Linked DNA regions of Homo sapiens: region 2 is linked to region 1. A link means that fine-mapping ties the variant in region 1 to the expression of a gene that starts in the linked region. Tissue or cell type: breast. Region 1 holds a variant in brackets; the other region holds the start of a gene. All regions are shown on one strand. Distances are between the middles of the regions.

Region 1 (16,128 bases):
AATTATTAGACAGTATGGCTCAGCAGACTCCTGTAGGTAATGCTGCTGTATCCTCAGTTGACTCATTCACTCAGGTAATGCAACATACATTTCATTCTTTACCTCCCCCTCCACTGCTTTATTAAGGTATAATATACAAGTTAAAATCGTAACTTAGGGTATACAATGTGATGTTTTTGATACATGTTTACATTTTGTTTTGTTTTATTTTGTTTTTGAGAGATGGAGTCTTGCTCTGTTGCCCAGGCTGGAGTGCAGTGGCGCAATCTCGGCTGACTGCAATTTCCGCCTCCCGGGTTCAAGCGATTCTCCTGCCTCAGTCTCCTGAGTAGCTGGGACTACAGGCACATGTCACCACACCCGGCTAAGTTTTGTATTTTTTTTTTAGTAGAGACAGGGTATTGCCATGTTGGCCAGGCTGGTCTCGAACTCCAGACCTCAGGTGATCTTCCTGCCTCGGCCTCCCAAAGTGCTGGGATTACAGGTGTGAGCCACCACACCCAGCCTATATTTTGACATAAAATCAAGCTACTTAACATATCAGTCACCTCACACAGTCATCATTTTTTTGTAGAGAACAGTTAAGATCTGATCTCTTAGCAAATTACAAGTATACATTATTAGTAACTGTATTCTCCATGCTGTACAATAGATTTTCAGAATTTATTCATTCCATTGAACTGAAACTTTGTGCCCTTTGACCAACATGTCCTCATTTTCCCTTCCCCTCCACTCTTCAACCCCTGGCAACCATCATTCTACTGTCTGCTTCTGTAAGTTCAACTTTTAGATTCCACATATAAGTGAGATCAATCATGCTATTTGTCTTTCTGTTCCTGACTTCTTAGCCTATTATCAAGAGGAAAAATTGATGATGTAGGAGAGCAAGGAGAACTGCTAAAGCAGTGTCCTTGAGTAGAAAATAGCAGCATATATGGAGGTGTTCACTTTAGACAGGATAATGGATATATGGGTACAGATTCAGGAGGCTGGTAGATGTGGTGATGAGAACTTGTGCAGGCTGTCTCCTGATTTCTTCTTGCTTAGTGAAATAGAAAGGACGATCATCAGCTAAGATCGAGGTAGTAGAAATTGAAATAAAAAAAGACTACTAAATAAGTCTTCTAGCAGAGGAGGAGTGAATGGATTAGGGAAACCATATGTGTTTGCCTGGCAGTACCAGAGGCGCACTTTTGAAGGTTGTGGTCATGAATGTAAAGGTAGATTTGTCACATCTTTGAAAATGGACTGAATTGAGAATGACAGACTCTGGGTCTCAAAAATGTTTTTTTTCCCATAATTTTACAAATAAGCTGCTGTGCTGAAAACAAACTATAAAATAATCGTAGTATCCTGTGTAGACAATATTTTAAAAGTGTCTGGAAAATACACATTAAAATGTTATCCCTGGAGAAGGGTAAGAAGACTTTTTTACTGTACATGTTTATAAATTATTTGAGTTTTTAAAATAAAACTATAGTTTTAATTAAATGTATTACGAAATATTTTAAATACAGAGAAAATAGAGTAACTTATATTTTCCACAAATAGTTATTATGTAACTACTCTGTACCAGGCATGTCTTTTTTTCTTTTTCTTTTCTCTTTGAGACGGAGTCTCACTCTGTCGCCCAGGCTGGAGTGCAGTGGCGCGATCTCGGCTCACTGCAAGCTCCGCCTCCTGGGTTCACGCCATTCTCCTGCCTCAGCCTCCCAAGTAGCTGGGACTACACGTGCCCGCCACCAGGCCCAGCTAATTTTTTTTGTATTTTTTCGTAGAGATGGGGTTTCGCCGTGTTAGCCACGATGGTCTCGATCTCCTGACCTCGTTATCCGCCTGCCTTGGCCTCCCAAAGTGCTGGGATTTCAGGCGTGAGCCACCGCGCCCAGCCTGTACCAGGCATTTCTAAGCACTCATAGATACAAATAGGTCCACAAAATAGAATAACACCTGTCTTTACAGAGCTCTCTTTATGGTGGGGTATACATTAAGACTTCCATTGTCTTCCCCCTGGATTTAACTGTTATATTTTGTCTTATTTGCCACTAATTTTTAAAAAAGAAATTAAGGCATTATAGATATAGCCCACTGCTGCCTGCTTCTCTTCCTGCCTTTTACCTTCTAACTTTTTATATCTTTCCTATTCATATTTTAGTACTTAAAAAAATTCCTGTGTATCCACAAAATATGTATAGTACTATCTGTATCTGTTTAAACATGTTTCTAATTTAATTACTTAGTTACTCCAAATTTTTATGAGTATTACATGTATTTGGTTTAAATAGTCAAATAGTTTTTTTTTATTATACTTTAAGTTCTAGGGTACATGTGCAAAACGTGCAGGTTTGTTACATATGTATATATGTGCCATGTTGGTGTGCTGCACCTATTAACTCGTCATTTACATTAGGTATTTCTCCTAATGCTATCCTTCCCCCTGCCCCCCACCCCAAGACAGACCCGCCCGCCGTGTGTGATGTTCCCTGCCCTGTATCCAGGTGTTCTCATTGTTCAATTCCCACCTATGAGTGAGGACATGCGGTGTTTGGTTTTCTGTCCTTGTGATAGTTTGCTCAGAATGATGGTTTCCAGCTTCATCCATGTCCCTGCAAAGGACTTGAACTCACCCTTTTTTATAGCTGCATAGTATTCCATGGTGTATATGTGCCACATTTTCTTAATCCAGTCTATCATTGGTGGACATTTGGGTTGGTTCCAAGTTTTTGCTATTGTGAATAGTGCCGCAGTAAACATATGTGTGCATGTGTCTTTATAGCAGCATGATTTGTAATCCTTTGGGTATATACCCAGTAATGGGATCACTGGGTCAAATGGTATTTCTTAGTTCTAGATCCTTGAGGAATTGCCACACTGTCTTCCACAATGGTTGAACTAGTTTATACGCCAACCAACAGTGTAAAAGCGTTCCTATTTCTCCACATCCTCTCCAGCATCTGTTGTTTCCTGACTTTTTAATGATCGCCATTCTAACTGTTGTGAAATGGTATCTCACTGTGGTTTTGATTTGCATTTCTCTGATGACCAGTGATGATGAGCATTTTTTCATGTATCTGTTGGCTGCATAAATGTCTTCTTTTGAGAAGTGTCTGTTCATATCCTTTGCCCTCTTTTTGATGGGGTTGTTTTTTTCTTGCAAATTTGTTTAAGTTCTTTGTAGATTCTGGATATTAGTCAAATAGTTTTTTTGAGATGGAGTCTCACTCTGTTGCCCAGGCTGGAGTGCAATGGCGTGATCTCGGCTCCTGCAACCTCTGCCTCTCAGGTTCAAGCAATTCTCCTGTCTCAGCCTCCCAAGTAGCTGGGATTACAGGCGCGTGCCACCAGGCCTGGCTAATTTTTGTATTTTTAGTAAAGATGGGGTTTCACCATGTTGGTCAGGCTGGTCTTGAACTCCTGACCTCGTGATCCACCCACTTTGGCCTCCCAAAGTGTTGGGATTACAGGCGTGAGCCATCACGCCCAGCCTCAAATAGTGTAATATGTGAAACAGCTGTCCTCTGTTATGACTCTTACATTCTACTTCTATTCTGCTCCTTAGAAGCTATGATTTTCAACTTCCCTCCCCTTTTTAATCTATTTTTCCTAGTGTCTGTTATTTCCATATATCAGAAAAAACCTTGCTTAAAATCTGTTAGTTTTTCTGTTATAGATGTTTTCTATTTATTTGCTAATATAAGACATGATGAAACTCTCTCACTTCCCTGCTTCCCAACATGTACATACTTCTTTTCTCCCCACCTTATCAGTATACATTTTTGTTAAATCAGTATTAAAAGTTTACAGTATTATGAGAAGGTAAATATTTTTCAGAATTGAGCTATGTGTGGTACAACGATTACATTTCTTTTCTTGTATAATTTTTCATTTTTCCTCATTTTTTTCCTTTGCATAGATTTCTATGTTTCTACTTCTAATTTATGCTCAAACTCTACTAAGTGTAAATTCTCATTCAGTTTATTTAAACATATCAGTTTCAAATTGGTCTCGGAAACATTCCACTTGGAATTCTCCTTTTTTTTTTTTTTCTTTTTTTTTGAGACAAGGTCTTGCTCTGTCGCCTAGGCTGGAACGCAGTGGTGCAATCACAGCTCACTGCAGCCTCAAACTCCTGGGCTCCCACTAGTAGCTGGTAGCTGGGACTACAGGCAAGCATCACCAAACCCACCTAACTTTTTAATTTTTTGTAGAGATGGGGCCTCATTATGTTGCCCAGACTGTCCTTTCTTTTTTGTTCTACTGTTGACTGACTATTCTCTGGACCTATTGTATAGCCATAGACAAGGTATTATTTCACCATTACTACAGAAATTCTTTTTGTTTCTCTTCTGTGTTGAATCCTTTGTTTTTCCTTCTTGTTGATTTGTTCTTTTGTGTGTTTTAAAAATGAATATAAATAGTATTATTCTGTATAACTTGCTGTTGTTCACTCAACATTATTTTAAAGATTTATCGATGTTGATACATGGAATATACTTTGTTTTGATTGCTTCATAGTGTGCCATTGTATAAATGAGCCAGTTTTTTTCATTTCCTTTTTCATATGTTCTCACTAACATTTATCAGACCTTTAAAATTTTGCCAAACTGATGAGTGAAATTAGAATATCATACTTAGTTTGTGTTTCTTGATTACTGGTGATATTGAGCATCTTTGCACACTTTTGGCTGTGTTTGTATTTCCTTTTATAGGAATTGACTTTATATATTTTGTCCAATTTTCTGTTGTATTGCTTTTGGCACTTTTTAAATTTAGTCTTTTGGGAAAAAAACCTAAGATGCCTTTATGTGTTCTGGATAATAATCCTTTGTAAATACATTGCATTTTTCTCCTTCTAGCATGGTGCTTGTCTTTTAACATTGCTTATAGTGACTTTTACATACAGATATACTATATTTGTATATAGATAAATGTATTGTTTCTTTTATGATTTGTGGATTTGTGGGTTTTTTAATGTTTGAGAAATCCTTCTCTGTCCTGATATGTAAAGATATAAAGATGTTCGTGTGTGTGTGTGTGTGTGTGTGTGTGTGTGTGTGTGTGTGTGTAGACTGGGGGTCTCGCTATGTTGCCCAGGCTGGTCTCAAACTCCTGGCCTCAAGCAGAGCCTAAGATGTTGTCTTTCAGTTCTTAAAGCCTTAAGGTTTACTTTTTGAATATGTTTGTGTGCAGTATGGTAAGGGAATTAAATTCATTTTTCCCCTTATGGAAAACTAGTCCTAGCCCCATGAATTGAGTAATTTGTCCCATTTTTTTTTTTTTACCATGAGTAATAGCATCTTTGTCATATATGCTTAGGTTTATTTCTGGGCTGTCTCTTTTATTCCAATTAGTTTATTTGCCTGTCTCTTTGCCAGTGGGGCAAGTTCCTCCTCACAGTCATCAAAATATGTATAGGTATTCTTCATAATAATTGTGTAGGTATTCTTCATAATAATTATATCAGCTTGTTGAGTTTCATTAAATAGTATTAGCTTGTCAAGTTTCATGAAGAACCTTGTTGGAATTTTGTTGGTAATAACATTGGATATATGGGTTTAATTTGGGGAGAATTGGCCACCTTTACCACATTGTCTTTCCATATGTGACATGTTATGTCTTTCCATTGAACATGGTATATCTTTCCATTGAAAATGGTATATATAGGTCCTTTTGTTTTCTTTTCTGTCTCTTAGTAGTCTTTATAATATTTTCCACAAAAATCTTACTAGTTTGTCTTAGCATTTTTTCTAGGTATTGGAGAAAATGCTTTGTTTATATTCTGAATGGAATCCTTTTAAAGATTTCAGTTACACTTAAAAATTATTGTCACTGGTGTGGAGGACTGCTGTTGATTTTTTTTTTTTTTCCTAATATTGATCTTTTAGTTGTGACTTTAGTCTGGGTACAGTGGCACATGCCTGTAACTCTAGCACTTTGGGAGGCTGAGGTGAGAGGATTGCTTGAGCCTAGAATTTTGAGACCAGCCTGGGTAACATAGTGAGACCCTGTCTTTATAAAAAGATAAAAAATTACCCAGGCATGGTGGTGCATGCTTATAATCTCAGCTACTTGGGAGGCTGAGGCAGGAGGATCACTTGAGCCTGGGAGATCAAGGCTACAGTGAGCCATGATTGTGCCACTGCATTCCAGCCTGGGTGAAAGAGTGGGACCCTGTCTCAAAAACAAACGAAGAAACTGTTAGTGACTTTACTGAACTTTTGATATTAATCAGGTGCCTTCGCAGCAGAGTCTCTTGGATTATACTGCCTTCATATTATTCAACAACTGAATAAAAAAACCTAATAAGACCAATTCTCTTGTGTAGAGAAGAGAAGGCATGGCTGATTTTGTATATTTGAGAAAGTGATGCTGGAAAGGTTATTTTTGAGTGAGTAGAAGGTAGTATTATCTTCAGAAGTTCAGTTACTTTTAGGGTTAGTACTTAAGCCCATTTGATTCTCAGGAAATGTGAGTCCATTTACTTCTAGCTTCTACCAAGGAGACTTGGAGTATGTTAGTGAATTTGATCATTTTAGAGTCAAGGAAGGGAAACAGATTAGGAAACAGAGGAAATGGAATAGTGCTGCCTTTATCTTCTTTCCAGCAATGGAAATAACCAGTTGCTCCTTTATAATATGTAAACTCTTATCTTTCTGGCAGGTAAAAGACTTCTTAGAGATGGTTACTATTTTATATGAGAAAATAGGTTGATTTGAGGAGAGTGATAATTGAGGAGGGACATAGTGGATGCAGACATGGAGATGAAAGAAAATATTTTGAAGAAAAATTTTTTTCTTTTTTTTTCCCCAAAGTGAGTAGCATATTTCACAGTGTCATTGTATGTATGATTACTCTTAACATTCTTTTTTATTCATTTATTTAATTTTATTTTTTTGACACAGGGCCTCACTATGTTGCACAGGCTGGTCTTGAATGCCTGGCCTCAAGTGATTCTCCTGCCTCAGCCTCCCAAAGTTTTGGGATTACAGGCATGAGCCACCGCACCCAGCCAGCTTTCAGCATTAGACTCTCTTAGAACTGACACTCCCTATAAACAAGTTAATGTGAGAACACTTTTAATTTAAAAATATTGAGTTCTAAATGAAGTATTCAGTATAATCCATTAATCTATTATTAACTTTTCAGTTCACACAAAAGATGTTGGACAATTTCTACAATTTTGCTTCATCATTTGCTGTCTCTCAGGCCCAGATGACACCAAGCCCATCTGAAATGTTCATTCCGGCAAATGTGGTTCTGAAATGGTATGAGGCATTTTCTGTCTCCAATATTAAGGCTTTTTATAACTGAATATCTATTTTGTCTATGAATATATTCCTTTTTTGACATTTAAACATATTCTTTTATTGTGAACATCAGCACTGCATGCCATTAAAGTATG[T/C]ACTATAGAGATCTGATGAGAAACAGTTCTTACCCTAAATATTTTGTTATATTGTCGCCATTATGAATTTATAAAGACAGGAAAATATAGTTGCCTATGTTTTAGGGACCACTATTAAAGCTTATAAATATTTGTGTATTTTCATTTAGAAGTACCATCTATGAGAGTAGTTTATACTGCACTGTGTACATGAATGGCTAATGAATCTATTTTCCAACTTTCCCGTGTTTTATAGATATTTCTTTTCACTTTGAGTATCCTAGAGATGGGAGGATGCCTAGGAAGAGTTTGTTGAGAAGTGGTACCATGGTGTAGCATGGAGAGCATTGGAATGCACTAGGTTTGAATTTTGGCATAATGTAGCTATGTGACCCTGAGCAAATTTCTCTCATCTGCTCATCTGTGGAATGAGGAAATAGGAGTTGAATTTGATTTTTTTCCTTAGGTCCCTTCTAGGTCTTAAATTTGCAGAAGATAAACAATTACTAAAATTTCTTATGATTTGTGCTCTCTGATAAAAGCTAATCAAAACTGCCCCGATATTTAAATTCCTATGCTTGCTGTCTTTTTATAAGAATAATTACATTTCCAGATTATCTTTTTAGATTTTTTATAGCTTTTTAGAAATGACATGTAAAATTGTTTTGGATAAGTCATTTGGCAGTTAATGAAAGATCCTATTTTAATTTTCTTGTGAATGTAAATATATGTGTTTTCTTTTCTAGGTATGAAAACTTTCAAAGACGACTAGCACAGAACCCTCTCTTTTGGAAAACATAATTTGAATAAAATAATTTTTAATGGATTCTGAAATTTGTCATGTTTTGAAGATAACTGACTCCATCTAAAAGTATGAGGTCAAAGGATCACGAAACCTAAGTTTAAAAACTGCTTAGAGACTGAAGCTTAATTAAAAATCTTTATTAAAAATTAAAAACATTGAAAAATGAAAATATGTTCATCATTAAAGACTTTTTTCCCCTTAAGCTTAAAATACCATTCAAAGGCAAGACATTTTGTTTTGGCTATGATTCATTTTTTTTACTTAAAAATAAAACCTATACCAAACAGTAGTGTGCCAAGTACCATTGCATGTGTAATCATTCATTTATTGAAATGAAACAATGGTTTGCTGGAGTAGTTAACTTTTCAATTACCTATTTCAAAATTTGGGAGACTTGAAAAACATATGAAGTATACATTTTTAAATATGGAGAAATTATTTTCAGAGATTATTTCTTAAGATTGTCAGTTTTTCCAATTAATACAGGTTGGCTGTCACTTTTTATATCTGCAGATTCATATAAGTTTAATAAAATTGCCATATTGGTGAGCTTTTATTTAATACTGGTAGGCATTTATGTGTAGAATATAGGATTCTTCTTGTTAATGGATGGTTAGTAGTTCATTTTTTGTTGATTATAACAATACCCAAAACTGGGTAATTTATTGACTTAAATGTTTTTTTTTTTTTTAAGACGAAGTTTTGCTTTGTTGTCCCGGCTTTAGTGCAGTGGCGTGATCACAGCTTATTCCAGCCATGACCTCTTGGGCTCAAGTGCTCATCCTGCCCCAAGCTTTCCATGTAGCTGGGACTGCAGACGTGCACCCCCATACCCAGCTAATTTTTTTGATGTTTTTGCAGAGACACAGTCTTACTGTGTTGCCCAGACTAGGCTTGAACTCCTGGGCTCAAGCAATCCTACTTCAGCCTCCCAAAGTGCTGGGTTGGTAATTGATAAAGAAAAGGATTTTTTTTTTTTTCCTACAATGATGGAGACTGAGAATTCCAAGGCCAAGGGGCTGCAGCTGGTGAGAGGCTTCTTGCTGGTGGGGAGACTCTGAAGAGTCCTTAGGCAGTGCAGCGTATCACACAGTGAGGGGGCTGAGCATGCTTTTGTGCCAGCTGAGGTCACTCTTCCTCTTCTTATAAAGCCACCAGTTCCCCTCCTGTGATAACTTAACCTATGGGCAGAGCCCTCATGATCCAATCACCTCTTAAAGGCCGCACCTCTCAGTACTGCCACATTGGGATTAAAATTTCAACGTAATTTTGGAAGGGACAAATATTCAAACCATAGCAATTGTTGAATCATGAGACTTGGCAATGGCTACACAACAGTCTTTAATACTCTGCACAGAAAACATCAGCTAATTGCAATACAATTTCCAGAAGCAAAATGATTATTCATGTACTACAACTTGTATCTAGGACCTAGATTGCCAAACCCAAGCTGAAAAAACATCCTGAAGTTCAGTTGTGCCTCTTCTACAGTCAGGTAGCCTCTTCCCAGTGATTTTTGTAGTGATACAACAGGAAATACTAAGTAAACACAAACTATTCCTTGGTCTGCTAAGAAATCAAAAGAATATATGATTATTCATGATAATCTTGGGTTGTAGTGAATTTAAACTAGTTTCTTGGGCTTCCAGAGCAGATGATGGGAGTGAAATTTTGGGCCACATTTTCTAGTATTATTCTTACTTCTAGAATAGTATCTTGCACAGTATGCATAAGGAGTCATCACTTCTGGGAGCTTTCCTGAGTAGCCTATACCTGCCTTATTTTGGAAGTTTCTGGTTATTCTCGGAGACACGTGATATGCTGGAAAGAAAAGGGCTTTAAATATCTGAACATCTAACAATTATTCTATATATGCAAGGTAGGTTTGTGTACAGGAGGCAGGTAAAAACCTGGTGTTGACATAAATAATGCCGGCTGGGTTACAGAAGATAGTAGAAATATAAATATTTATCACAACAGGAGTGAGCCAAGAATTGTTTCCTTGAGGTGGGCATATTCTTAGAGGAGTTAAATAGTTCCTACAGAGAAGTCTGAAAAATCTGGAGAAAACTGACTAGTGCAGTGAGGATAGCTCCAACATTTGTCCCCTGCCTTGGTGAGCTTGATTCTGTCTGCTGACAGTGCTGTAATGATTGTAGCAGAAGTATATTTGTTTAATTAAGGTAGAGATCCAGTTTTTACAAGAATGAAGAGTGAGGTTAATGATATGAAGAAAATTCAAATACCAAAAGGGACCTGTGGGAATTAACTGGCCTCCTCAAGAATTTAAAGGAAATATATATATATATATATTTTATGGTGGAATTTGAAAGATTCAGGGAGTAGCTATAGTTTGAGAAAACTGCTCAAAATTCTTAAGGTGGCCAAAAAACACCATAAAGAATTAAGTATAAAATGATAAATGTGAGAGAATACTGAGAAACCTTTAGGCAATCTCTAGGGAGTACCAAACTGTAATAAGCAGAAGAGGGAAAGTAGCAAAGGTATCAGAAAATTAATCTTCCTTGTTGCCTTGTAGCCTTCCTTGTTGCCATGCTGTCTACTTTGTATTGTCATTTGTTTGATTTGAAGGTCTTGATTAGTAGTCTTCCACCAAAGATGTTGGCTTCTGGAGGATTCCTAAGAATCATTGGTTTAAGGTCTCCTGATGGAGTGGTTGTTTAGCTGTCTGGAGAAGGTACTTGTCATTTAGTTGGGAAACATAAACCCAGTGATCATCATCTTGGAGTTTACTGCCATGCTAGTTGTTACAGTATCTGCTGAGCTAATTTTTCACTGAGGCCAGTTTTTCCCTGATGTCTCTTCCAGAAGACTAAGTTTGCTGATAGTTGAGGATGTTGCAGACAATGATGTTTTTCTAGATTAGAGAAGAGTGGAATCCACTATTGAGGAACAATACAATTTATAAAATGATTATGAGAGTACAACATATTATGGACAATATTCAGTGATAATTCTCTTGGTCTGTAATCTCGTAAAGTATATCTTTTTGCAGACAGTTATTGTGTTAGTCTTTACATGAACATGAGCATGTTTCTTTTTACCTGAAATGAAACACTGAAACATTTTTATTCACAAATTTTACCTGGCATAATTAACAGGAGAAGGCTAATCTCTTGATTTGTTAAGTTTTCTTTTTTTCTTTTAAGTTTGATTTTTTTTAAAAAAAAAGTCTTAAAATGATTGGGGATTAATTAAAATTTGTAGAGTGCCAAACAAACCTAATTTTTCCTATTGTCTTTTCTTCCATAATGTGAAGGAAACCTGAAGAGTTCAGGCATAAAAGACATCTTCATAGTCTTACTGTGCCTGAATTTGGGAAAGGCCAAAATTATAAAGAGTTGTCAGAGGAGAGAAGATATGAATATTAGTCAAAAATATATAAAGGTGGCTGGGCATGGTGGCTCACGCCTGTAATCCCAGGACGTTGGGAGGCCGAGGTGGGTGGATCACTTGAGGCTAGGAGTTCAAGACCAGCCTGGCCAATATGGTGAAAGCCCATCTTTACTAAAAACACAAACATTAGCCGGGCATGGTTGTGCATGCTTGTAATCCCAGCTACTCCAGAAGCTGAGGCAGGAGAATCACTTGAACCCAGGAGGTGGAGGCTGCAGTGAGCCGAGATGGTGCTACTGCACTCCAGTCTGGGTAACAGAATGAGACTCAGTCTCAAAAAAAAAAATTTTTTTTAAATTAAAGAATTTAATTTTTAAAAGATTTATTGAGATATAATTCATATTCCACACAGTTAACCCATTTACAGTTAACCCATTTAAAGAGCCAGGTGCAGTGGTGCACAGCTGTAATCTCAGCTACTCTGGAGCCTGAAGTGAGAGAATTGTTTGAGCCCAGGAATTCAAGACCAGCCTGGGCAACAGCAGAGACCTTGTCTCAATTGAATGAATGAATGCTTTTTAGTTTAGTCTCAGATTTGTGCAAATGTCATCACAATCTAATTTTTATTCCTCCAAAAGGAGCCTCATATCCATTAGTAGTTAATCCCCATCTCCCAGCTTCTAGTATCCCTAAGCCACCACTAATCTTTTTGTGTCTGGATTTGCCTTTTCTGGATATTTTATATAAATGGAATCAGAGAGAGTGGTCTTTTGTGACTAGCTTCCTTCACTTAGCATAATGTTTTCAAGATTATTCCATGTTGTAGCATGTATCTGTACTTCATTTCTTTTTATCTTTTTTCTTTTCAATTTTTTGAGACAGGATCTCCCTCTGTTGCCTAGACTGGAGTGCAGTGGTGCGATCACGGTTCACTACAGCCTCGACCTCCCAGCCTCAAGTGATACTCTCACTTCAGCTTCCCGAGTAGCTGGGACTAGAAGTGCGCACCACCATGCCCAGCTAATTTTTTTTTTTTTGGTATTTTTTGTAGAGATCTAGTCTCACTCTGTTGTCCAGGCTGGTCTTGAACTCCTGTGCTCAAGGGATCCACACACCTCAGCCCCCTGAAGTGCTGGGATTATAGGCATGAGCCACTGTGCCTGGCTAGGAGTTTATTATAGATACAAGTCTCTTAAAAATAGGATTTGCAAATATTTTCTTCTGTGAGTTATCTTTTCACTTTCTTGTTGATATCATTTGCAGTACAAAAGTTTTTAATTTTGATGTAATTCAGTTTATCTTTGTTTTTCTTTTCTTGTTTCTGTTCTTGGTGTTATATCTAAGAAACGATTGCCTAATTCAAGGTTGTGAAGACTGACTCCTGTGTTTTCTTCTAAGAGTTTTATAGTTTTATCTCTTTCATTTAGGTCTTTGATTCATCTTGAGTTAATTTTTGTGAATGGTAAATGAATATGCACATTCTTTTGCGTGTGAATATCCAGTTTTCCCAACATCATTTGTTGAACCGTTAGTCTACATTTGAACCATATCAAGTTAATTTTGGTGCACAAACATAAAAGATAAAAGAATATGTGACTAGGATTATTAGGTATTTTAGTTTTTCCAAATTAGTATTTTAGCTTTTTTAAAAAATGACTTAATATGTCAAAATGCTTAGTGATAGAATGTTACAGTGATAGAAGAAATCTTTGTTATCTCACCAGAGATAGCTTTGCTGTTTTATCAGAAAGAAAATCCAGATTATAGTTTTACTCTTGTTACTTGTCTTCTATTTAACAATATGTAGTAATGGCTTCATAAGCCTTTCTTCCTGTGAATACATCCATCACATTTAACCAGCTTCGTCAAAAATTTTGACACATTTATTGATCCTTTCCAACCCCTAACTTGTCAAATACAGTTTACTCCTCAGAACTTCTACACTCTCTGAATACTTTTTTTCTGAGATGAAATCTCACTCTGTCTCCCAGGCTGGAGTGCAGTGGTGTGATCTCAGCCCTCCTGAGTTCAAGTGATTCTCCGGCCTCAGCCTCCTGAGTAGCTAGGATTACAGGTGTCTGCCACCATGCCTGGCTAATTTTTGTATTTTTGGTAGAGATGGGGTTTCACCATGTTGGCCAGGCTGGTCTCGAACTCCTGACCTCAAGCGATCCACCCACCTCGGCCTCCCAAAGTGCTAGGGTTACAGATGTGAGCCACCGCGCCCGGCCTGAATACTCTTAAGTTTAAAAAATACTCTTCAAATGGTATTTCTAGTTCTAGATCCCTGAGGAATCGCCACACTGACTTCCACAATGGTTGAACTAGTTTACAGTCCCACCAACAGTGTAAAAGTGTTCCTATTTCTCCACATCCTCTCCAGCACCTGTTGTTTCCTGACTTTTAAATGATCTCCATTCTAACTGGTGTGAGATGGTATCTCATTGTGGTTTTGATTTGCATTTCTCTGATGGCCAGTGATGATGAGCATTTTTTCATGTGTTTTTTGGCTGCGTAAATGTCTTCTTTTGAGAAGTGTCTGTTCATATCCTTCACCCACTTTTTGATGGGGTTGTTTGTTTTTTTCTTGTAAATTTGTTTGAGTTCATTGTAAGGATTATAAATCATGCTGCTATAAAGACACATGCACACGTATGTTTATTGCAGCACTATTCACAATAGCAAAGACTTGGAACCAACCCATATGTCCAACAATGATAGACTGGATTAAGAAAATGTGGCACATATACACCATGGAATACTATGCAGCCATAAAAAATGATGAGTTCATGTCCTTTGTAGGGACGTGGATGAAGCTGGAAACCAGCATTCTCAGCAAACTATCACAAGGACAAAAAACCAAACACCGCATATTCTCACTCATAGGTGGGAATTGAAAAATGAGAACACATGGACACAGGAAGGGGAACATCACACACTGGGGCCTGTTGTGGGGTTGGGGGAGTGGGGAGGGATAGCATTAGGATATATACCTAATGCTAAATGATGAGTTACTAGGTGCAGCACACCAACATGGCACAGGTATACATATGTAACAAACCTGCACGTTGTGCACATGTACCCTAAAACTTAAAGTATAATAATAAAAAAATACTCTTCTAGGCTAGCATAACCAGACTCTCCTTAAGGTAAAATAATTCTTTTTTACTTAGATAAATAAAATTCATTACCTTGCATACACATCCCATTACCTATCCACATTTAAAAAATATCTTCAAAACAAGTATTCACATCAACATAAAGCCATCTATACATCCTTTTTAACCTGGTAGCTAACAGCTACACCAGTTATTAAAGCACATATGTCATAAAATTGTCCAGTTTTCCAAGGTTACTTACAAAAGAATATTCATATCCTTAAAGTTAACTAAGGATCTGGAAATCACAAATGAAGCTGACACAGGAAGTCCTTATGGTTGTAGCTTAAGAATTAACAAATTTAGAATCTTTTAAAAGACATTTGTTATAAGTCCATTTTGTTAAACACAACTTGAGCTTTTTGTAATAAATAATTTGTGGAAAAGAGATAACACTTAAAACCTATATAAAAATTTAAGTTTAAATATGGAATAAAAGTCATTTATATACATTTTCTGACTTAAACATTCATTAAAACAGTTTCATGACCTGCTATTTCTCCTTTTCCATTTAGAGCCTGTGGTGGACAGATATGTATGAGATAATATGAGACATCACTAAATTCAGCTTTTTTTGTGTGTGTTTAATGGATAAAAGAACTAACATTTCTAAGCAAGAACAGAAGTTTTCTTAGATCTCAATAGCATTAGCCAATTGGCTTTATTTTTCCAAAGAAACAAAATAAGAAAAAATTATGTGAGCATCTGTTTTTTCTTCAGTGATGCACAGAGAACCACAAAATTGCATTATAGTGTAGTGGATAAGGTTATGGCCTCTAGAGTCAGGTAGCTTGTGTTCAAAATTTGGCTATACCATTTACTTACTGTTTTGATCTTATCAAGTTACTTCGCCTCTCTGTGTCATAGTTTCTTCATCTGTAAAATGAATTGACCACAGTATATATCTTTGAAGTTTGTTATAAGGAATAAACTTACCTAAAACTTTTAGAATAATGCCTGATACATTCTTAGTGCTCAATAAGTATTGGAAATCAAATTGTTGAAGTATATCATATTTGATATCAGCCAGGGTCACTCACTGGCCAAGTAACCCACCACATACCAGCATCAAAGATCAATTAAAATTGTCATATTCCTTTGGGGCTGCTTTTGAATGATAAAATGTCTGATAACTATTTGTACACTAGGTATGTATTATATTTCTAAAAGCCTAAAGAGAACTGCATAAACAATAGGGTTGCATAGTATAACAAAGCATTTGTTTCTTGTTTGGAATTTTATTTTATTTTTTGAGATGGAGTCTCACTCTGTTGCCCAGGCTGGAGTGCAGTGGCGCGATCTTGGCTCACTGCGACCTCCACCTCCTGGGTTCAAGCAATTCTCATGCCTCAGCCTCCTGAGTAGCTGAGATTATAGGCATGAGTCACCACGCCCAGCTAATTTTTGTATTTTTAGTAGAAACGGGG
Region 2 (16,128 bases), 29 kb after region 1:
ATCAAGTTGGCTTCATCCCTGGGTTGCAAGGCTGGTTCAACATACACAAATCAATAAACGTAATCCATCATATAAACAGAACCAAAGACAAAAACCACATGATTATCTCAATAGATGCAGAAAAGGCCTTTGACAAAATTCAACAACCCTTCATGTTAAAAACTCCAATAAACTTGATATTGATGGGACGTTATCTCAAAATAGTAAGAGCTATTTATGACAAACCCACAGCCAATATCATACTGAATGGGCAAAAACTGGAAGCATTCCCTTTGAAAACTGGCACAAGACAGGGATGCCCTCTCTCACCACTCCTACTCAGCATAGTGTTGGAAATTCTGGCCAGGGCAATCAGGCAGGACAAAGAAATAAAGGGTATTCAATTAGGAAAAGATGAAGTCAAATTGTCCCTGTTTGCAGTTGACACTGCATATTTAGAAAACCCCATCGTCTCAGCCCAAAATTTCCTTAAGCTGATAAGCAACTTCAGCAAAATCTCAGGATAGAAAATGTGCAAAAATCACAAGCATTCCTATACATCAATAACAGACAAACAGAGAGCCAAATTATGAGTGAACTCCCATTCACAATTGCTTCAAAGAGAATAAAATACCTAGGAATCCAACTTACAAGAGATGTGAAGGACCTCTTCAAGGAGAACTACAAACCACTGCTCAACGAAATAAAAGAGGACACAAGCAAATGGAAGAACATTCCATGCTCATGGGTATGAAGAATCAATATCATGAAAATGGCCATACTGCCCAAGATAATTTATAGATTCAATGCCCTATTTAATAAATAAGGTTAATAAAAGTCAATAAATTGACTTTTATGTACCTATGTGTCATTTCCATTGTATTTATCCTATTTGGGACTTGCTAAGCTTCTTGAAGATTTTGTTAATACTTTTCATCAATTTGGAAAATTATCAGCCATTTTTCTCAAATGATTACTTCTTATTCTGTCTTCTCTTCCTGGAACTTCATATATTTCACATTTCTTACTGTGTGAGGTTCTTTTTACCTTCTTCCTTTTTGAGGTTCAATTTGGATAATTTCATTAAGTTCATTCTTCTTGACATATGTTGTTTTCTGTCTACTGTTAAAATCCTCAAGTAAGTTCTTTACTTTTTAGTCAACTTATGAATTAACTAAATTTTATTTAAGTTTGCATTTATTAAGCTTTTAAGTTTGCTTTCCTAGAATTCTGGGTTTCTTCTTAAAAAAAAAATCCTCATCAGGATACATACAATAAGCTGCACCCATTTAGAGTGCACACTTTGATGAATTTTGACAGCTGTAGACTCCTGTGAAATCACTACCACATTCAAGATACAGAATATATCCATTACACCCCAAAATATTTCCCATGCCCCCTTTGCAGTTCATTTCTCCTTCTGATCCTGGCCCCAGCCAATCACTGATTTGCTGGACTCACTATAAATTAGTTTGCATTTTCTACAATTTATATAAATGAAACCACACAGTATGTATTCTTTGTGTCTTGTTTTTATCAGCCAGCATGATGATTCTGAGGTTCATCCATGTTATTACCTATGTCAGTAGTTCACTCCTTTTTATTACTAAGTAGTGTTACTTTGTATAGATATACTACGACTTGTTTATCCATTTTCCATTTGATGGACACATGGGCTGTTTTACATTTTTGGCTACTGTGAATAAGGCTGCTATGAATATTTGCATTTAACACTTTGTGTGAACACATATTTTTTATTTCTATAGGTTGAATGCTTAGAACTAGGATGGCTGGTCATATGGTAGGTGTATGTTTAACTTTATAAGAAACTGCCAGTTTTTTGAACTACTTTACATTCACACCTTGAGAGTATAAGCTCCAATTGTTCCACATCTTCACTAACATTTGGTATTATCAGTCTTTTTAATTGTAGCCATCCTAATGTAGTGTTGTCTCATTGTAGTTTTAATATGTGTTTTCCTAATGACTAACCATGTTGCAAACCTTTCCATCTCCTTACTGACCATTTATACATCTGCTTTTGTAAAATGTATGTTCAAATATTTTGTCCATTAAAGAAATTGAATTATCTTCTTATTATTGAGCTTTGGGAGATTTTAAAAATACATTTTATATACCAGTTGTCAGGTATTGGTAGTGTGAATATTTTCTACTATTCTGTGACTTTTCATTTCTTAATGATGCCTTTAAAGAGCAAAAGTTTTGAATTTTGATAAAGTCCAACTTATCAAGTTTTTAACTTTTATGATTAATGCTTTTTATCTTAAATATTTGCTTAACCTCAAGATCACAAGATTTTTCTTTTATGTTTTATTCTAGAACTTTTATGTCTTTTACTTTTAGATTTAGGTCTATGAACTATTTTAAGTTAATTTTTGTATATTGTGTGAAGTGAATTGGCTGACCAACTTACCATACATTGCCTAAAGTCACTTATTTTACAATTTTTCAAAATTTATTTATCAGTAGTCTCCATTTTAAAAAATAGTCAAGGTATTCTTTTGTTTATAGAATATACATTTGGTTTTGCCTATGTAAAGTGGTATAATCTTATGGTAAAATGGGGCAAGAATCTGCAGGTTTAGAATTTTTGGAAGCCAAAGAGCTTTTTTTCCTATTTTTACTTTTATCATTATTTCTTTAAGTTTACTGGGATATACTCTGTTAACATTTACAGTCATTATTACTATTTTAACAACAAACAGGCTCAGAAATATTAAGATTTTATTCAGTTATAAACACAAGCCTATTTATGTTAATACTAGACTTGAGCTCAGATTTCCAAATGCCAAATTCCTCACTTTAGCTTAAGTGAAATAGAAAAAAGGTGCAAAATGCTTATAAGAGGTGTAGGTCAGATGAGTACAGCTTAAATATTAACTTTCTCTTCTAATCATAAATAGATAATGTTATATACACGGGTATTATTATCATATTTATTATTTATTGAGACAACATCTATTAAACATAAGAAAGCCCTATTGTATGACTTTTATTCTGCAAAGAGTCCAGGTAGAATAACAATAGTGTGTTAACTCCTACTTGAAATGGTCTATTTTCAAATAGTCTGAATTGATGAGTTTTCTATATTTTTTCTTTGGGAGATCATTCCACAGCTTAATGTCAAGGTAATCTCATTTATCACCTTAGCTAATTTACTTTTTTTCATTTGTATTGTAAGAAAATGAATGCATCTTTGCAGTTTCATCTGTCAAAAGCTTCTAAATGGCTGTCACTCAACCACATTAATCATTCTGTAGCCAGCCTTCCTGTGGTTATCCTTTTAGTTATTTGGTAGCTTTCCCCTATCTCTCTGAGAAATTTCTCTGATTAGTTGTTATCTGACATATGGATTACTTATAACATGTAATGAAATTCAAACTTCTTTTTAATGTAATACAGAAGAATATAGTGGTGATTAGGTCATTCTCTTATTCAAGGCCTTCAGGAACTATCCACACCTTCCAAATACAATTCAAGCTTCTTTGTTTAGCATTCAGGCCAATCATCCCAGTTAGAAGCAGACATAGTTTGAATATCTGTCCCTGCCAAATCTCACATTGAATTGTAATCCCCGTGTTGAAGGTGGGGCCTGGCAGAGAGCGTTTGGATCATGGGGGTGGATCCGTCATAGCTTGGTGCCATCCTCACGGTAGTGAATGAGTTCTTGCGAAATCTGGTTGTTTAAGTGTGTGGCACCTTCCCCCACCCACTCTCTCTCTTGCTCCTGCTTTCGCCATGTGATAAGCCTACTCTTGCTTTGCCTTCCACTATGAGTAAAAGCTCCCTGAGGCGTCCCCAGAAGCTGGGCAGATGCCAGCACCATGCTTGTACAGCCTGCAGAAACATGAGCCAATTAAACCTCTTTTTAAAATAAATTACCCAGTCTCAGGTATTTCTTTATAGCCATGCAAGAATGGCCTAACAGAGATATAATCTTCCTCCCCTTGAATTCCCATTACACTGTCTTCATGCCTCAAACATGACATTTAACATATGCTACGGTTTGATGTCCCCTCCAAACCTCATGCTGAAATTTGATCCTGGCCCAATATTGGAGATGAGGCTTAATGGGAGGTGTTTTGGTCATGGGGGCGAAACCCATGAATAGAGATATATGACCTCCCTCGGTAGGGAGTGAGTGCTCACTCTATTAATTCCTCAGAGCTGGCTGTTAAAAAGAGCCTGGCATCTCCCTTACCCGTCTTTTGTTTCCTCTGTCACCAAGTGATCTCTGCACAGCTGGCTCCCCTTTGCCTTGGCCTTTTGCCATGAATGGAAGCAGCCTGAGGCCTCCACCAGATGCAGATACCCAATCTTGAACCTTCCAGCCATTCTTAACTGTGAACCAAATAAATATGTTTTCTTTATAAATTACTCAGTCTCTCCGGTAGTCCTTTACAACAACACAAAACAGACTAAGATAAATCTTTACAATACAGTTGCAGTGCACAAATACATAATTTATGTGAATTCAAGTCTAAGTAAAACTTAAAGAGAATACTTTAAATTGAAATACTTTAGTTTTATCTACCAGTTCTGTATCATTCAGGTTCAATCAGAGAAGCAGAACCTGTAAGAGTGATAGAAAATATAAAATTTATTATGAGCACTAGCCCTTACATAGTTGTAAGAGCTGGTTAAGTCATCTCTGTCTGGTGTTGGCCTCTGTGTCTGGTGTAGGGCCTAAAGACAGCAAGGCTAATAGGAAGAAAAGATGGTCATGAAATGGGGAAGAATAAGGAAAGATTGGAACTGGTGAGAACAATCTGGAACCTACAAGTGAAACCGCCTTTGCAAAAATTATGACACTGAGAAAAATCTGACATAGGAAAATTATGGCAGTAAAAGAAATCTGTCCTAACCAACTCCATCTTGCTTCTAACCTCCAAGCTGCCCTTGTTCGTTCCCGGGCATAGGCTGAACTAACTTTGGGAGGAATTTATAGTTTAACTTTGAAACAAAGATGATAACAGCCCCTCCCTGAAACAAACTCCCTTCTTGCATGGGGACAAGATTGTTCTTTGTAAAACCAACAAATTAGCCACAAGCTCAGAAACCATGGCCTAGGAGTCATGCAGCCAGAGGCCACAAGATTGCTAACTTCCCCAATTGCCTCTATAGATAACATTACTATTGTAAAACCTAAGATTGGTGTTTGAGCCGATTTTTCTGACCCAGCATTCTGATGGGTTAGCTGGCACATTCCAGACAGAAAAACTGGCTCATCTGGTCTTGTGGCCTCCACCAGGAACTGACTCAGCACAAAACGACAGCTTCAACTTCCTATGATTTCATCACTTGACCCAACCAATCGGCATTCCCCATTCCCTAGCTCCTTTTCCACCAAACTAAAAAACCCTAGCCTCTGAATTTTCAAGGAGGCTGATCTGAGTAATAATAAGACTCCAGTCTTCCATTTAGCCAGCTCTGCCTGTATTAAACTCTTTCTCTATTGCAATTCCCCCATCTTGATAAATCAGCTTCATTTGGGCAGTAGGCAAGATGAACCCATTGGGCGGTTACACACAGGCAAACTAGATCCTGTGAGGACAAATTGCAACCTGCATCTGTATTTCCTTGCGTCCAACCTCAGTGATGTGAGGGACTTATAGGATTAGGTAGTACCTTTGGCAACACTGCTGCACATGTACCTGGTCTAAGATTGAGAGAAGCAGAATGAGGAGATCTGGCAGGAGCTGCAAAGCTGCAGGCCAGGCTGCTGGCCCATGCCTACACGGTGAGCCAGCAGGTCAGTGCCTGGCCCTACAATGACCTTTAGGGCTTCAGATCACATGGCTGCTGCTTTACTTCTGCCTTCCAAATCTCACACACATTCTCTTTTGACTAACCCTAACCTAGAATCATATAGGAAAGGGAATTCTGGAAAATGTAGTTCTATCTTGGCTAAGTTCACAGTCTATGAAGCTACCGCAAGTCTGTTTCTGCATAAATCCTTGAGTAAGCAAGGGACAGAAGATATACATCTGCTATATTTTCAATCTGTCTCAGTTCATGAGTGTGTATCATAGTGTAAGCATGGCACAGTGTTGAGTACATACAATTCTATTTGGTTGAATTTTTAGAATAAGACTGCTTTCCTAAACTCTAGCCAACTGTTTCATTACATCTCTCCTGAAGAAAGTGATCTGCTCCAGTGTGAGGAGAGAAAGACTGCATTGGGTCTATAAACTGAGAGATGGCATATGTGGGTCTCTGATATGGTCCCTTCCTAAGAAGGGATTCCTGGAGTAGTTTTCCCACATCCAATTTTCAATTTACACTTTAACTTTGAAACCCAATCCTGATTTTAGAACCTCCTGCAATAAATATTTGTTAAAATGGTGAAAAATGAATTGTGAACTTCTTATCTGTAGGGGTTTTCTGGTTAAGTGTCTGTATTCCTTTTAGCAACTAGCAAAGTGCTTGGCACAAATTAGGTACTCAATAGATGTGGTTAAATTATTTATTGCAAATTTCTATTCTGGTGTTGTATAATGAGTATTATGTTTTCTTTTTCAATAGTTTTTTTTTCCAAGTTGCCTTTAATATAAGCCACTTAATATTGTGTGTGCCTTGGGGCTTGGGTAAAAATGACTGCCCATTCAATGTGGGTTTTGCAAGGCAAGTTGGAGCTTGCAGAAAAGTAAATGTACATTGAAATACTTGGGAACATTTTGGCCCTGTTTGTTTCCTTCAGTGTTTGCATAAATCCCTACACTCTACCTGTACCTCTCTCTCTTCCTCTCTTTGGTAAATTATCTTAAATATTATAAAGTAATTCATGCCCTTGTTAAACAGTAAATAAAGGAGAAAAGTGAATATAAAAGTTCTTGGAATGCCTCCTCCACCATACAAAATTTTGCCTGATCCAAAATTCCACTGTTAATATTTTTGTGTATGTATCTTTCCTCAAATATCCCATATGTTTACAAAAATATATATGAATACGTATGCATACTTATATACTTATATTTGAAGGAAACAGGATTACATTATATAAAAATACTATGCTGCTACTGGTTTTCACTTACTATATTTTGAAACTTTTTCAACATCAGCACGTAAATGTGCAGTTTCCTTTTAAGTAAACTCTTGAAATGTATTCCAATGTATGTATTCACAATTTAACCAGTTCCCTATGATGGTCATCTTAGGCTAATTCTAAGAATTAACATTATAAACAATGTTGCATATACATATATCTTTGTATGTATCATGCTAATACATCCAATTTTATATCCAAATATATCCAAATTTGTAGCAGTGGAAGTACATAGTTTGCCTGAGTTTTAATAGCAACTGAAAAGTATGTATTTTCAGGATATATAATATTTATAGCTCATTAAAAGTTTCTAGTCAACACAGGGTTACATGTATCTACACAGCCTCTTTTGTCAAGAGACCTTTGACAAAAGGAAAGTAAAACCTTGGAAGAAAAGTCTTTGTCCTTATTCTTTTTACAGCTTCCTTTAGCCATCTACAATTCACTAATAATTAGCATCCACCACCATCTTCTGGAACTGAAGACAGCTTTTCTAGAGATTAAAAGTACCACTATATTTAATTCAAAATCTAATGTATTGTAAAACAATTATTTTTATAATTCCATTATCTTAATGTGGAACAATAATGCTGATATTGCCACTAAAAATTAGCTGGCATTATCTATTAAAATTGATCATATGCATTTCTCATGACCCATGAATCTACTCCTAGTTATATACACATCAGAAATGAGTACATCTATCTGTCAAAAGTGTTCTGTGAGACTGTTTGCAGCAGCCTTATTCCCAGTAGCCTCAAAGGGAAACAACGCAAATGCCCTTCAACAGTGGAATGCATAAATTGTGCCATACTCATAAAAAGGAATAATATGCAACAGTGTAAATGAAGAAATTATTACCATAGAAACTATGGATGAACCTCATAAACATAATGTGAATTTGAATAGAGCCAGACAGAAAAGGATACATACTATATGATTCCAAAGATTCAACAGGCAAAATGAATCTGCAGTATGTGTTGGCTAATGACTGGAGGGGTAATGAAGTGCTGATCTGTGCAATGTGCTAGCATTCTATTTTTTGACCTGGATGGGTTTTGCATAGGTATGTTCAGCTTGTGATAATTACCAGCAGAGGGGAGAGCATGCACGCAATTCTTCAGGATGAGATTGGTGACATGTAGAGAAAAGGGGGAAATGACTGTAGTTTAAAAAAAGTCAATTCCCTCCTCCCCACTTCTCCAGCTCTCCATTTCCTAGGAAGAGAGCCCAGGGAAAAGCAAACCAAGAAACAAATTCCAGCTCAAACTCAAACTCTCAAACAGATCTGGAGACTCAAATATCGATCTCTCTGGGCAAAAGGCATTCCTAGATTTGTCCAAGGTACAAAAACTACCACTCTAACCACGTTTCTTCGCTGCCCGGGGTCAGAGAAGTAAAAACCCATTATTTATTTATTTTTAAGTTACTTCCAACCTCGCTGCCTCGAGCTTCTGAATCGCCTGGGCAACCTGGAAGCCGCCCATCTAAGGGGGTGAGGTCGAATCCCAGCCTTGACGCCTTAGCAACCGAGCGAGCCTTTCTCGCGTCCCAGCAACGCGCCCTTCCCTCTGCCGGGCCTATTCTCCCTGGTGCCCCTCCCTTCCTCGAGGCTGCAGCTCACCCCTCATTGGGTCTCTCGTTGGTCAGGAGGGCGCGGGTCTGCACACTCTCACTCGGTGCCGGACATCAGTTCCTGCGGCTCTTGCTGTGGGAGCTGCCCGAGAGCCAGAGCAGTGGGGAGGGACGGCGAGAACCAATGTTTAAGTTTATTTAAGAAAGAAGAAAAAGAGTCAAGAAGTTCAAGATTTTCGTCACTCTTATTTTTAAGGCACATCCAAAGCTCCGTGGAGAAGGGGCTGGAGGGTGGGAAAATTATTTTTGTGCACATTCCATATAAGAAAGAAGAGACCCATCGAACATTCAGTACGGAGTCACCTGGAAATTGGAGATGTTGGATACGATCGCCCGTGCCCTGCAGGACCTGGGCAGGCAGGTGCTGCCCACTCTGCCCTCGCTGAGCCAGGAGGGTAAGCGTGTTGGGTAGCAGGGGGTGGCCCTGGGGATTGAATCTTCATCTGCTTGCAGGGGAGGCGGGGGGACCCACTTCCCAATTCCCTGGCTCAGGCCTGGCCTGCCGTGGCTAAGTTGCCTTGACAACCAGCTGGTAATCACATCCTGCCCACGTTGGACGCCCAGAGACCCTTTTCTGGTTTTGATTAAACCAGGGGATGCGTAGACAGCACAAAGTAAGTGCTCAATAAACGGACTAGCACAAAGTAAGTGCTCAATAAAGGTTAGGTAAAAACAGCCACTCCCACACCACTCGCTGGGATGGATCACAACCCTTTTGCCTACCTAGAGAAAAGAGATGCAGGGACCCTAAATGGCTCCTTTTGAGAGTTCATGCAAAGACGGTTGATTTTGTTGCCTTTGACATCATGCCGTTGTATTAAGAAAATGAGATGATCATAAAAAGCTACAGGGTAAGTACTTTGGAAGGGGACCTGGCACCTTCTCAGAGAAAACTCATTAGGCTTGGTTAGTAGCAAGACAAGATCTGTTTTTAGCATCGTTTGTAGAAGAGTCACCCCAAAGTGAGGCTGAGATCTGTCTGCAAACCACAGGAGAAGAGAGGTGCTGCAGGAATGCAAACTCATTATTATCAAACCATTGTAACTTAGAGATGTTGCTTAGGCTTTAACCAAATGACCGCAGAAAACAAATAGGAATGGCTGCTTCTTTCTCTTCCCCTGCATCACTCCTATCTTTTCCTCTCAAATCATCCTGAAAGATGCATTGAAGATAATGGCTTAATGAATTTAAAAACATTTGCTATATTTGTAAATTTATGTATAGTCATTCAAGGAATTCTGAAACCCTGCTATATGCTGAGCACTAGTTAACTTACGGTGAACAAACATCTTGGAATTTACTGTTTAGTGGGGAAGATGCACATTAATCAAATAATCACACAAATCAATGCAAATTTACAATTTAGGTAAATGATACCAGGGAGGAGGTAAATGGTACAGTAAGAACTTTTTTTAAAGATGATTTTTTAGGGTAGTTGTAGATTCACAGTAAATTAAGAAGGAGGGACAATATATTAGTTTATTTGTACACTGCTATGAAGATACTATCCCAGACTGGGTCATTATAAAGGAAAGAGGTTTAATTGACTCACAGTTCTTCATGGCTGGGGGAGCCCTCAGGAAACTTAAAATCATGGCAGAAGGGGAAGCAGGCATGTCTTACATGACGGCAGGAGAGAGAGAGAGAGAGAAGCCCGGGGGACCAGGGGAAACTGCCATTTATAAAACTCTCAGATCTTGTGAGAAATCCCTCACCATCATGAGAACAGCATGGGGGAAACTGCTCCCAGGATCCAATCCCCTCCCACCAGGCCTCTCCCTCAACACCTAGGGATTACAATTCAAGATGAGATTTGGGTGGGGAAACAAAGCCTAACCATATCAGACAGAGATGTCCCACATACTGTCTAATCCTACACTTGGATAGACTCTCCCATTGTCAACATCCCTCACCGGAGTGGTACATGTGTTACAATTGAACCTACATTGACACATCAAAATCACCCAAGTTTCATAGTTTACATTAGAGTTCTTTCTTGGTGTTGTACATTTTATGAGTTTGGACAAATGTAAAATGACATGTATCTATCATTATAGTCATATAGAGTATTTCACTCCCCTTTGTTCTGCCTATTCACCCCTACCCCTAATCCCAAAATCTGGAAACCACTGATCTTTCCACGGTCTTCATAGTTTTGCCAGTTCCAGAATGTAATATAGTTGGAATCATATAGTTTAAGCCTTTTCAGATTGGCTTCTTTCACTTAGCAATATGCATTTAATATTCCTCCATGTCTTTTTGTGGCTTGATAGCTCATTTCTTTTTAGTTCTGAATAATATTCCATTATCTAGATGTACCACAGGTTTTTTTTTTTTAATCTGTCCACCCACTGAAAAATGTCTTGGTTGCTTCCAAGTTTTGGCAATTATGAATAAAGCTGTTTTAAATATCTGTGTGCAGGTTTTAAAAAACTGGATATAAGTTTTCAATTCACTTGGGTAAATACCCAGGGACATAATCGCTAGATTGTATGGTAAGAGGATGTTTAGTTTTGTGAGAAACTGCCAGACTGTCTTCCAAAGGGGCTGTACTATGTTGCATTCCCAAGAGCGATGAATGAGAATTCTTGTCACTCCATGTTATTGTCAGCATTTGTTGTTGTCAGTATTTTAGATTTTGGTCATTCTAATAGATGGTGTATTGGTATCTCATTGTTTTATTTTGCATTTTCCTGATGATAAATAATGGGGAGCACCTTTTAATATGCTTGTCATTTTTTGATGAGATATATATAAAGGGCTTTGGCTCATTTTTAAATTGAGTTTTTCTTTTCTTTGTGTTTTTAAGAGTTATTTGTATATTTTGCATGACAGTGTCTTTTGCAAATATTTTTTCCCAGTCTGTGGCTTGTCTTCTCATTCTCTTGACATTGTTTTTCACAGAGCAGAAGTTTTAAATTTTAATGAAGTCCATCTTATTATTTCTTGCTTGGATTATGCCTTTGGTGTTTTATCTAAAAAGTCATTGCTATACCCAAGATCATCTAAGTTTTGTCCTATGTTATCTTCTAGGAGTTCTGTGGTTTTGCACTTCATATTTAGGTCTATGATCCATTTTAAGTTAATTTTTGTGAAAGGTGTAAGGTCTGTGCCTAGGTTCTTTTTTTTTTTTTTTTTTTTTTGCATGTGGATGTCCAGTTGTTCTAGCAATGTTTGTTTAAAAGACTATCTGCTCCATTGTATTGCCTTTGCCTCTTTGTCAAAGATAAGTTGACTGTATTTATATGGGTCTATTCCTGGGCTCTCTTTTGTGTCCTTTTAATCTATTTGTCTGTTCTTTTGTCAATACACACTGTCTTGATGACTCAGCTTTATTGTAAATCTTGAAGTTGGGTAGTGACAGTCCTCTGACTTGTCCCATGTGTTATCTAGATGCATATTATTTAGTCCCCATGTATTTTGGGATTTTCCACTTATCTTTCTCTTATTCATTTCTACTTTAATCCCATTGTAATCTGACAGCAGGCATTGTATGATTTCTATCCTTTTCTATTTGTTAAGGTGTGTTTTATGGCCCAGAACATGGTCTGTCTTGGTGAATGTTCCATGTGAGCTTGAGAAGAATGTGCATTCTACTGCTGTTGGATGAACTAGTCTGTAGATATCAACTATATCCATTTGATTGATGGTGCTGTTGAGTTCAACTATGCCTTTACTAATTTTCTGCCAGCTGGATCTGTTCATTTCTGATAGGTGAGTACTGAAGTCTTCAAGTATGATAATGGATTCATTTATCTCTTCTTGCAGTTCTACTAGTTTTTGCTTAATGTAATTTGACATACTATTTTTAGGTGCATACATATTAAAAATTCTTAGGTCTTCTTGAAAGATTGACCCCTCTATTATTATGTAATGCTCTTTATTTCTGACAACTCTCCTTGATTTGAAGTCTGTTCTAAAATTAATATAGCTACCCCTACTTTCTTTTGATAAGTATTATCATGCTGTATTTTCCTCCATCCATCTACTTTTAATCTATATGTTTTTAGATTTAGATTGGGTTTCTTTTAGACAAGATATAGTGGGGTTTTGTTTTTTGGTCCACTCCAGCAATCTTTGTCTTTTAATTGGTACACTTAGCCTATGTTCAAAGTGATTACTGATATAGCTAGATTAATACCTACCATATTTGTTATTGTTTTCTACTTTTTGCCCTTGTTTTTTGTACCCATCTTTATTTTCCACTGAGCATTTTACGATTCCATTTTCTCCTTTTTCAGCATATCAGTTATACTTTTTTTTTTTTGAGACATAGTCTTGCTGTGTCACCCAGGCTGGAGTGCAGTGGTGTGATCTTGGCTCACTGCAAGCTCCGCCTCCTGGGTTCATGCCATTCTCCTGCCTCAGCCTCCCCAGTAGCTAGGACCACAGGCACCCGCCACCATGCCTGGCTAATTTTTTGTATTTTTAGTAGAGGTGGGGTTTCACCATGTTAGCCAGGATGGTCTTGATCTCCTGACCTTGTGATCCGCCTACCCCAGCCTCCCAAAGTGCTGGGATTACAGGTGTGAGCCACCGTGCCAGGCCCAGTTATACTTTTAAAAAAAATTTTAGTAGTTGCCTTAGATTACAATATATATTTACAGTCAATTCAAGTCCACTTCCAAATAACACTGTACCACTTCACAGGTAGTGTGATTGTTTTATAATAACAAAATCTTAATTCCTTCCTCCCATCCCTTGTATCATTGCTGTCATTCATTTCATTTCACTTATATATAAATGTAAATATATATGATATATGCATAAGCATACATAATTGAATACATTATTGCTATTACTAGACAAACTGCTATCTGTTAGGTCAGCTAAGAATAATAAAAATAGGCCAGGTGCAGTGGCTCATGCTTGTAATCCCAGCACTTTAGGATGCCAAGGTGGGAGAATCGCTGGAGTCCAGGAGTCCAGGATCAGCATGGGCAATATAGTGAGACCTTGTCTGTACAAAAAATTAAAACCAAAAAAATTAGATGGACATGGTGGCACACGACTGTAGTCCCAGCTACTCAGGAGGCTGAAGTGGGAGGGCTGCTTGAGAGCCTAGCAGGTGGAGGTTGCAGTGAGCCAAGACTGCACCGTTGCACTCCAGGCTGGGCAACAAAATGAGACCCTGTCTCAAAGAAAAAAAAAGTTTTTATTTTACCTTCACTTATTCCTTCTTCGATGGTCTTCCCTTTTTTTTTTTTTTTAAATGCAGATCCAAGTTTCTGACCTACATCATTTTCCTTTTTTCTGAGGAACATCTTTTAACATTTCTTGAAAAGCAGGTTTACTGGCAATTAATTCCCTTAATTTTTGTTTGTCTGAAAAATAATTTCTCCTTTGCTTTTGAAAAATAATTTTACAGGATGCAGAATTTTAGGTTGGTGTTTTCTTTTTCTCAACACTTGAAATGTCTTATGGTACTCTCTTTTTGCTTGGTTTCTGAGAAGTAGTTCAATATAATTCTCATCTTTGTTTCTCTATAGATGAGGTGTTCCTTTCCCTCTCTCTGCCTGGCTTCTTTCAGGATTTGTTTTTAGCTCTGATTTTCTGTACTTTGAAAATGATATTCCTAGGTATCTTTTTTTGGGTATTTATCCAGCTTGGTGTTATTTGAGCTTCCTGGATCTGTGGTTTCATGTCTGACATTAGAGGGAAATTCTGAGTAATTGTTTCAAGCATTTCCTCTAATATTTCTCCCTCTTCTCCTGGTATTCCCATTATGGGTACACACCTTCTGTAGTTGCCTCACAATCCTTGGATATTCTGGGTTTTTTTTTTCCAGTCTTTGTTCGCTTTCCTTTTGAAGTTTCCTTGTCACATCTTCAAGCTCAGAGATTTTTTACTAAGTCATGTCCAGTCCACTAGTAAGCCTATCAAAGGCATTCTTCATTTCTGTTACAGTGTTTTTAGTTGCTAGCATTTATTTTTGGTTCTTTCTTAGGATTTCAATCTCTCTGCTTATGTAGCCCATCTGTTCTTGCATGCTGTCTACTATATCCGTTAGAGCCCTTAGCATATTAGCCATAGTTGTTTTAAATTGCCAGTGTGATAGTTCCAACATCCCTGCCATGTCTGGCTCTGATGGTTGCTCTGTCTCTTCATATTGTATGTTTTGCCTTTTAGTATGCCTTGTAATTTTTTCTTGATAGCTGGAAGTGATGTACTGGGTAAAAGTAACTGCTATAAATAGGCCTTTAGTAATGTAGGGGTAGAGTGTGGGGGGTGGGAAAGCATTCTATAGTCCTATGATCAGGTCTCAGTCTTTTAGTGAGCCTGTGCCTCTGGACTGTGAACTTTACAAATGTTTCTCAGATTTTTCCTTTCTCCTTAGGTGGGACAGAATGGCTAAAGTGGACTGGAGTTGGTCATTTTCCTTCTCTCAGGTCAGTTAGGCTCTGATAATATCCCAGCAGGTTAGGCTCTGGTGAACTAGTTTCTTCTGAGGGCAGGTCATTAAGGACAACAGAGTACTCTGGCATATTTAAAAATGGTATTTTTTTCTTCCTCCCACCTGAAGCACAAGGAGATTTTTCTCTTATATTTACCTGGATATTTGGCTGTGGGAATCTGGTTGAGCTCTGGGAAGTAAACCTTAAAATATGTGGGGACCCTCCCTCCATGACTGGGTTCCCCTGGAGGTTTTAACTCTTGGTGTTGTCCACACTGAGCCTCCAGAAATTTGTCAATTACACTTTGAGTTTTCTTACCCAGCATTGGTTCTTGATGCTGTTTCTGCATGTGAGTCCGTTTCAGGAAGCCATTCCTCCTGGTATTTGCCTTTCTGTCTCTCCAATTTTAGGGGCAGCAGTTTGTCCTGTGTCCTCCCTCATCTTATGGACCCAAGAAGAGTTGTTGATTTTTCTGTCTGGTCAACTTTTTAGTTGTTAGGATGGAGTGGTGACTTCCTTACATACAGCACCAAGAAATGGAAGTCAAATGAGAACATTTAATAGAGAGTAAGGATGGGGGTGTGTGCCAAGAATGGCTAAAGAAGGGATAATTTGAGCTGAGTTGTGAAGAATGAGTTGGAATTAAGTAGATGAAATGGATCAGAGAGGTAGAGAGTGGAAGTGAGTTGAAAATGATTTTGGCAAAGGGAATGACAGGGGCAAAAACTTATGGTGAGAGTATGATGTGATGGAGCAACTGAAAGACAGTTGACTGGCTGCTCTGTAGATGTGGGGAGGCAGTGTATTCTAAAGTAGGCTAGAGAGAAAGGAAGGGGTCAAGTAATACAGGGCCTTGTAAGTCATATTAAGGATGTTGACCTTTATGTTAAGCCTGATGGGAAGCCATTAAGTGTTTTGAGCTGGAGGTCAAGGAGAAGTTGAATTATATGATCAGTTTATATTTGGAAAAGATTACTCTGGTTGCCATGTGGGGAATGAATAGGAGGGTCAAGAATACCTATAGCAATAGTCTTGGTGAGAACAAATGGTAGC

Which allele goes with the higher level. Positions count from the first base shown, and alleles are read on the strand shown. Sizes are in standard deviations (SD) of each study's normalised expression.
As copies of C replace T in region 1, the expression in breast of the gene that starts at base 8,720 in region 2 goes up (small effect, 0.35 SD a copy in GTEx).

Evidence for each region.
Region 2: it holds the start of CCDC81, and the variant in region 1 is fine-mapped to the expression of CCDC81 in breast (GTEx, PIP above 0.99). The same link has a PIP of 0.9 or more in atrial appendage, cerebellum, gastroesophageal junction, sun-exposed skin and transverse colon.

Annotation. Positions count from the first base shown.
Region 1 is chr11:86,337,457-86,353,584 of GRCh38, forward strand. It overlaps HIKESHI (heat shock protein nuclear import factor hikeshi), which reads left to right. Exons shown (of 5, transcript NM_016401.4): 3 at 1-74; 4 at 7,147-7,265; 5 at 8,128-8,487. The coding sequence ends at 8,182. It overlaps LOC105369421 (a long non-coding RNA gene), which reads right to left. Exons shown (of 5, transcript XR_007062826.1): 4 at 15,527-15,577. Among named protein-coding and RNA genes, the nearest start is that of CCDC81, 29 kb to the right of the region's middle. The variant T/C (reference allele first, on the strand shown) is at 7,403.
Region 2 is chr11:86,366,168-86,382,295 of GRCh38, forward strand. It overlaps CCDC81 (coiled-coil domain containing 81), which reads left to right and starts at 8,720. Exons shown (of 15, transcript NM_001156474.2): 1 at 8,720-9,075. The coding sequence starts at 8,997. The region is part of intron 2 of LOC105369421 (a long non-coding RNA gene); the gene reads right to left. RefSeq lists a silencer at 8,460-8,754.